2 linked regions of the Homo sapiens genome follow. The protein of the gene in region 1 purifies or fractionates together with the protein of each later gene. This does not show direct contact. Each region holds a gene or a part of one and is shown on either strand. Other genes may lie near its edges.

Region 1 (4,097 bases):
TGGTGATATATTGACAGAGCTGGTGGATTCATCAGAATGTGGGAATGTTCCTATTTTTATTCTACACTTCAGCCTGCCAGTTCAAATCCTTCCCAGTTCAGCTCCAAAGCAGCCCCTCTCCCATCACTCAAAGGCCATCCAATTCCCATTCTCACAGTTCCTCAAGACAGAAAGGATCCTTCAACTCCATGGCCCTTCATCAGCATATATATATATATATATATATATATATATATATATATATATATATATGTATTTTTTTTTAAATTGGAGATGGGGTCTCACTATGTTGCCCAGGCTGGTCTAGAACTCCTGGGCTCAAGTGATCCTCCTGCCTCGGCTTCCCAAAGTGCTGGATTATAGGCTTGAGCCACCACGCCAGCCCATCAGCACATCTTTAATTGCATTTTTCCACAGTCTTCCTTAAGTAATTCGTTTTCATGAACTATCTTTTCTTTTAGACTGGGTTTGCTGAAGGGAGCGGAGGCTCCTGTCTTCCATTTCAGTCATGTCTTACTAGACACTAAATAGAGGTAAATTACTGAATGCATTCAATCTGCATCAAGCCTCCGGTAGTCCTACAGTAACTGGTATCCCTCCCCTCCCCAGAAAATAATATTTTGTTTTATTAATGCTGGCTACAGCAGAGTCTGGTTTTCTTAAGAGTTCCTGCAAATCACAGGTTCGTCCTTTAACTTTGAGACCCAGGGAAGGAGGGAGCAAGGGAGGGAGGGAGGGAGGATGCTGTCAAGTCCGCAAAAATATGGACAACCTCAGAAACCTATAAACAGAAATATACTAACATGGTATATTTCTTACTTTTAAGGCCCTGAAATTATTAATTTTCCTTTCTTCTTTCTATGCGATTTTGGTTTCCAAATGTGTACATTGAGCAGGTATTGTTTTATGATTAGGGCGAAATTGCTGCTGCTGCTGCTGCTGCTGCTGCTGCTGATTACAAAAAATAGGCTGCAAGCAAGCCGTGCTTCCATTTAAAAGCTCCTCTTTGTTGCCTCGACAAGCAAGGGGTACTCGATAGCACTTTTCGGTTAGATTCTAATAGAAAGAAAGCTTTAAATTTCTCTCTCGGAAGCACTTTGTCAGCCAGGGTTTTCCCTCTCGCCCACCCTGCAGTTAAGGAAATCTAAGAGGTGGAAGTGGGGCGGGCTGGAGGGCCACAGACAGCCGCTGACCCAGACGCCCCATCTCCCGCCCCAGGGCGAGGGTGCGCGCTGTCGCTTATTGGCCAGCAGGGTCCCAGACCTTGACCAATCGCCTGGGGCCGGGTCGTCATGGCGACGCGCCACGCTAACGCATGGTGTCGGAGGGAGGCCCACTTGCTGAACAGCAGGGAGCGATGGCGCAGAACGTGTATGGTCCGGGAGTCCGGATAGGCAACTGGAATGAGGATGTCTACCTGGAGGAGGTACGCAGGGTGTGGCCAGGCGCAGACCCGCAGCTCAGGAACTCCCAGACCCTGCTCTAAGTTCAGTCTCCTACTTTGAGCGCCTCAAGCCTCCTCTCTCTCCCAGCATACAGCGAATACCTCTAAAATCCCCCACTTCTCTAAACTCCCAAGGAATCTCACCTGCCGAACTGCAAACCCAGGTCTCACTGACCTCTACTCCGAGCACCCTGACTTTTCTTTCTCTGGGTCCCTTGGCCTCCCAAAGTCAGATGCCTTGACTCTCAAGCCCCTGGCCTGTGTCTCCCGCTTAGTCTAGAGCCCCACTAAGTCCCCCGTATTCCTTAGAGTCTTACAGTCTCAGGCTGCGGGCCAGGTGAGGACACAGGTTCTAGGTAGAAATAATATCCCTCCCCACTCCAACCCTGCCACGCTTGCCCTCTTAAATGACCCTGAGTATTCCTTTTATTGACGTTGTACTCACTCACTGCCTCGTATTCTCCCAAGGGTGGTCTTAACAAGGCTTTGAGCCATTCGTATACGGGTCAGATTGGGGAGGGGTGAACTTTCTAGTGTCAGTCATCATACGGTCAAGGGAAACCCCAGCAGGGGAGACATGGCCTCCAAATGTCATTTAGGATGGTATCTGGCTGGAGTAATTACTGGTGATGTTTCTTTTTCTTTGTTTTGCCTTTCTCATTTTTCTAAACATTCTATAATGTAGTAAAAATATTAAAGTAGTGCTAAAAACGTTCCATCATTCCAATTATGCTCACATCTCTTTTTTTGTACTCAAATTTTGCTTTTTCAACTTGGAAGAGCTTCTGACCTAAAAGTTATTAATACTAACATCTATATTATTCAGGGCTACTTTTGTTGATTTTCTGTTTAGGAGCTCATGAAAGACTTCTTAGAGAAGAGAGACAAGGGGAAACTTCTCATACAGAGAAGTAGAAGACTAAAACAGAATCTCTTGAGACCGGTAACTTTTTTTTTTTTTATTACACTTTAAGTTTTAGGGTACATGTGCACAACGTGCAGGTTTGTTACATATGTATACATATGCTATGTTGGTGTGCTGCACCCATTAACTCGTCATTTAACATTAGGTATATCTCCTAATGCTATCCCTCTCCCCTCCCCCCACCCCACAACAGGCCCCAGTGTGCGATGTTCCCCTTCCTGTGTCCATGTGTTCTCCATTGTTCAATTCCCACCTATGAGTGAGAATATGCGGTGTTTGGTTTTCTGTCCCTGCGATAGTTTGCTCAGAATGATGGTTTCCAGCTTCATCCATGTCCCTACAAAGGACATGAACTCATCATTTTTTATGGCTGCATAGTATTCCATGGTGTATATGTGCCACATTTTCTTAATCCAGTCTATCGTTGTTGGACATTTAGGTTGGTTCCAAGTCTTTGCTATTGTGAATAGTGCCGCAGTTGGTGGGACTGTAAACTAGTTCAACCATTGTGGAAGTCAGTGTGGCAATTCCTCAGGGATCTAGAACTAGAAATACCATTTGACCCAGACATCCCATTACTGGGTATATACCCAAAGGATTATAAAACATGCTGCTATAAAGACACATGCACACGTATGTTTATTGAGACCGGTAACTTTAAATTCAGACATTGTTTTCAAAATTCTGTTGAACTTGGTGTGAGTATATGTTAAGCAAGAAAAAAATTTCATAACTGAGTTACCATTTGGAAAATAACAGTTTTTAAAAACAATTTGCAATGTTTTAAATTCTTCTAAGATTTTAGAAACATAAACAGTCTGCCCTAAATCATGTTTACCTGCATTTTACAAATAAAGAAATAAATGAGTTAATATGTAAATAAGTAAAATGCCCCTTAGTTGGTAATCGACAAATTTTTCAATGAATGTTGAATTTCTAGGATAATGAGTAAATCCATGTGATTTTAACCAGCTTTATTCGACTTCATTTGGAATTATTGGGAGCTTTGCCTTGGCAAAGGGGAAGGGAAAGGAAGAAGGAACTAAGGGTTCGAGGGAATCCAAGTGAAATCCTGAATGAAATGGGTACTAGTCCGAGAAGGAAGAAAATTGCCTTGGCAGTAACTGTTGAGGAATTGCATGGTTTATGTAATAAACTACTATCAAAATTGTAGATGCAACTTTCCGTAACTGAAGATGGCTATATTCATTACGGTGACAAAGTGATGCTTGTGAATCCTGATGATCCTGACACAGAAGCTGATGTGTTTCTGCGTGGGGACCTGAGCCTGTGTATGACTCCAGATGAAATTCAGTCCCATCTGAAAGACGAATTAGAGGTACCCTGTGGCCTGAGCGCAGTTCAAGCCAAGACCCCAATTGGCAGAAACACTTTTATCATTTTGAGGTAAAGAGACTTTAATTTTCAGTTCATTTTCATCATAAATATGTTTCACTTGTAGCTTAAAGATTCCTGGGTATTGGAGCCACTGAGTGGAGGGAAAGGTTTTGTGAACATTTTTCGTGATTTTCATCTTGCTTTGCTTACCTTGAGAATTATTGTCAAAGGAACTTTACAATCCCTTTTTACCTTAGACAGCAGGATAATTGTGTTCAATTCAAAATGCTTAAATCATGAGTATAGGATCCAGGGAATTAAATCCATATTCTGCCTGGAAGCAAAGTAGGTTTTCCCTATAACATTTTGGAACTTTTTGAGCTCATTTGA
Region 2 (4,269 bases), on another chromosome or scaffold:
TCAGATTCTGCCCAGAATGGAAACTCTTTCAGAGTTTACTTTTCATGACATCTATGTAAATTCCTTTCAGATGGCCTTTATTTCCTGCATGTAAACTGCTTGCAGATTAGAAGTCATAATCAAAGACGAAACGGTAATCCTGTCTCAAGTTAGTAACTGGCATCTTTGAGGAAGTAGACATTGGATAACATCTATTCCAATATATCTGTACCACACAGGAGTCAACCCCTTTTGGAGTCATATTTCTTGAAACGATGGTAGTTTATTTTAGCTTTTGTCAGATTTCTGTCTTGGTATTTCCTATGGAAATCAAACAGTAATTTTTAGACAATAAGGGTTCATATTGGTATATCCTGAATTAGTATTTTTTTGTTGTAAATCTTGTGGCCATCCTGAACTTAACACTTTTTAAATTGTGGATTTCCAATTATTTTTAGAGGTATTGATAAATCTTGTTCATATTCCTGTGAGAAGAGGACACAACTGAGTAGGAGGGGAAATGACATAGTCAGGAATTGATTGTTCCCAATACTTTTATTACAGGAGTTTTCTACAGGATCACAATTGAATTTATTTAATTAAGAGTAACTGTTGGTGATGTCCCAGTCATTTTTAAAAAAATCGAAGTACAATTTTTTTTTTTTTTGCTATTCGGAAATCAGATCTCACATGTCAGTTTACCATCTAAAGTCTACCTTCAGCTTTGCGGTCACTTAAGAAAACATACACTTAGGACCAGGAGCAGTGGATTGGGCCTGTAATCCCAGCGCTTTGGGAGGCCTGAGGCAGAAGAACTGCTGAAGGTCAGGAGGTGGAGACCAGCCTGGGCAACACAGCAAGACCCCCGCCTCTACAAAATAAACTTAAAAACAAAGCAAAACATTTGCCGGGCATAGTGGTACGCAACTGTACTCCTTACTACTCCGGAGACTGAGGCGGGAGGATCGCTGGAGCCCAGGAGTTGGAGGCTACAGTGAGCTGAGACTGCGCCACTCCACTCCAGCCTGGGCGACAGAGCGAGGCTCTGTTTCTAAAAATAATAATTTAAAAGCACATTTAGGAAGCTCGGCATCATTCCAATGTCTGGGTCCGAAAGCACTATAAGGCAGCAAGACACACAAGGTATCAAGCGTAAAAAAGAGAATTTAGCATCCCGGTGTGGATTTTCCCAGGCAAAAACGTGGCCTACGCTGGGTGCAGGGACCGTGCGGAACCGGCAGGTGCTTCCCGGTTGAGGACGCAAAGCAGCGGGAGCCCGGGGTCGCCGAGGGTCCGCCTGGGCTTAAGCAGCTCAACGAGGGAGGGCTCACCGGCCCGCGCACTTGCAGAGACGCGGTCCCAGCGACTCCGCAACTAGACCGTGGCCCCGCGAACTCCAGCCTCTTCTCGGCTCCGGGAGGGGCGGAGTGAGCGCGGGAGGGGGCGGGGCCACGCAAGGCCGCGCGCCCGCCGCTCGGCTCGGCTCGGCTCGGCTCGCTCGGTTTCGGGGTGCGCGGCGCGGGTCCGCCAGGCTGTGGCTACAAAGCCGCGGCGGGGCGCGAGCGCCGCAGGTGACCGGGGCTGGGAGCTGCGTGCGCGGGCGGCGGCTGAGGAGCTGGAGGCGGGCCCTCGCTCTCGGCCCAGGCGCTACGGGCTGAGGAGACTAGGCGAGCCGAGGCGGGCGAAGGGCTCTGGGCATCCACTTGACAGCCGGCGGCGCTCGCGGCCCTCAGCATGTTCCGCGAGGCGAGGGTTTTCCTCCCGCCTGTGGGCTGAGGCGGCGGCGGCCCCCGAAACGAGATGCACCTGACGGGCGCGGCTTAGAGGACGCGGCTGGCGGGAAGTCCCGGCAGCCAGCGGGAGGGCTTTCGTTGCCGGGCCGCCGCCGCCTCCCGTCGCCGCCGCGGGCCCGAGCGGGAGCGGCGGGTGGGCGCCCCGACATGGCGGCCCGGAGCGCCCCGAGCTGCCACCTGCGGCTCGAGTGGGTGTACGGCTACCGGGGCCACCAGTGCCGCAACAACCTCTACTACACTGCGGCCAAGGAGATCGTATACTTCGTGGCGGGGGTCGGCGTGGTGTACAGCCCGCGGGAGCACAGGCAGAAGTTCTACCGGGGCCACAGCGACGACATCATCAGGTACCGGGGAGCGGGGGCCGCCGCCGTCACCCTGCAAGCCGCTCCCGGAGTTTGCACCCGCGGGTTCCTCTGGACGCCGTGACCGCTCCTGCACGGAGCATCACCCCGAGGGGAATCCGCAGCTGTCTCTCTGGTCCCGAGTCCACCAGTTAACACCCTACAAATGCCTTTCCCCTCTTCCTCGTCTAGGGACTCTCTCTCGGGTCCGTGCAGGAAGATCAGGTCCGCGGATCCACCGGGCACCCGGTTTGACGGCTTTGTCCCCTTTCCCACTCCATCACAATTACGAAAACTGCGAAAAGGTTATTTTGGTGGCACTTTATTCCGTTAGATCCTGTGAGAAATTTCTTATTAAACGCATTCTTAAAGCACCCGGGGTGGGGGGAAACCCTTTACCTAATAAAGGACTGATGGAAGCACAGCAAGCGGTGGGCTGCTCCCGGGGAGCGCGCCCAGGGTGGCGTCCTGAAGGGCTCTCACCTCCTGGCCGTAATTATTAGTTCAGGTTTCACCGCCTGCTATAATCAGCAGAAACCCCAGGCAACCTCCAGGCAATTCACTGGATGTTAAAATGTGCACACCTGAAGGCAATTTAAGGTAGGTCTTATCTGAAGAGGCTGCTGAAAACTTCACTGATTTCCAGTTCTCTTCATCTTCATTAAAATACTCCTAAATAAGCTACTTTTGTATTTTCTTAAAATTAAATCGCTATTGGGGGGCTATTTTTAGTCTTCCTTGGACAATAACTCAAAGTTGGTCCCAGAGCTTGTTGACATTTCTTTAGTGAGCGGTATATTTGAAATGTAATTTTCAATCAGTGTCTTAGTACAACTTTTATGGTAAAGTCAAGAGCTTCAGAAATCATTCTAGGCCACTGATTATTGCCTCAAGCACAGCATTTTTTGTCCTTTACAGAGGAAAATATATTAAAAGCAATTGAGAATGTGTTTGTGTGGTGCTCTTGGGGTTTTATCAAAGATTCTACGATTTGGGTTTGGTTACAAAATGTTATTCCCTCATGTATGTTGCACAGGATTTAAATTGGGCATTTCAAATACGGTACCTTGGTTTGAAGTCTTGTAGGCAAGAAGCCCTGGTATGTAAATTCCACAAATAAAGTTGTTCTTCTGTTTTGCGTCTCTGTACATCTATAATATGTAAGAGGGAAAGGATGCCTAGGACAAACAGAGGTAGGGCAAGATGGAGTAAAGATAAGAAAAGACAAAATTGAGATTGCAGAGTAAGGAATGAGGTGGTGCTCTGTATTCAGTTGGTTTTTTTTGTTTGTTTTTGTTTTTTGGACACCAGAGTGCTTTTTCAGATTGTATTTAATGTATTACTTTGAAAAGGTAACTGATAAGTCATTTCATTTTTCTCAAGCTGGGACTCTGTATCGTGGTGATTAGGGTTACAGACCTATTATAATAGCCCAAATTGCTGATGGAAAAACAAAACTAAAGTAAACCCGTAGTAATTATTTATCTTCTTAGTTATCCCAAGAGTAGAGTTTACCCCAGTGTCTTGTCTTTTTCCCTAATCCTTTCAAGTCTCCCTTCTTTTCCATATGCTAGGTCTCCCAAAGTACCAGGCATAGTAGCTTTACCTAGCTGGAGCAGCCTTAACTGAAGCCCTGCTCCAGATAATTTAGTCTGTTAGGTTGAATTCAGCTGGTGGAGTAAATGTGAAGGATTTTGAGGTCTTCTCGTGGTACACTTGTATTGTTTTTACTCCTTGGGGGTTATGAGAGCAGTATAGCACTAAGGTCTTCTGAAACTAGATATGATTTATTTGGTGAGGTAAATTACATCTTGTTCTTCTAGCAGTAATTAGAAGCTGTGTTATATGTCACACCGCTTAAATTTCATAATTGTGTTTCAGTAAACTGTAAGGAAGGTAATGCTTTGACTTTCTTTTGGTATAGTTGCACAACTTATACAAAACAACAAACATACTCGAATTTCTCATCGTTGAATATACATGCTTATGATTTTATCCAAATGACACATCTTTAATGTATAACAATGAAAATAAGTTTCCTGAAAAGTTTCAATGAGGGAGTAAAATCTGAATCATACAGCATCTTGAAATTGGTGGCACAAATTTAATATGATACTGAGAATATAATTTAGGAATCAGTGAAAGGGCTCTGGACA

The links.
Region 2: the proteins of CFAP161 (region 1) and EML5 purify together in Homo sapiens (affinity purification with mass spectrometry, with the first as the bait; one large-scale study listed by BioGRID). This does not show direct contact.

What each region holds. Positions count from the first base shown.
Region 1 is NC_000015.10:81,132,973-81,137,069, forward strand, and holds the start of CFAP161 (cilia- and flagella-associated protein 161), read left to right. Parts: upstream 1-1,297; 5' UTR 1,298-1,357; coding exon 1,358-1,426; intron 1,427-2,297; coding exon 2,298-2,387; intron 2,388-3,543; coding exon 3,544-3,776; intron 3,777-4,097. UniProt on the Homo sapiens protein: Microtubule inner protein (MIP) part of the dynein-decorated doublet microtubules (DMTs) in cilia axoneme, which is required for motile cilia beating.
Region 2 is NC_000014.9:88,790,154-88,794,422, reverse strand, and holds the start of EML5 (echinoderm microtubule-associated protein-like 5), read left to right. Parts: upstream 1-1,469; 5' UTR 1,470-1,919; coding exon 1,920-2,116; intron 2,117-2,145; exon of another isoform or gene 2,146-2,687; coding exon of another isoform or gene 2,688-2,713; intron 2,714-4,269. UniProt on the Homo sapiens protein: May modify the assembly dynamics of microtubules, such that microtubules are slightly longer, but more dynamic.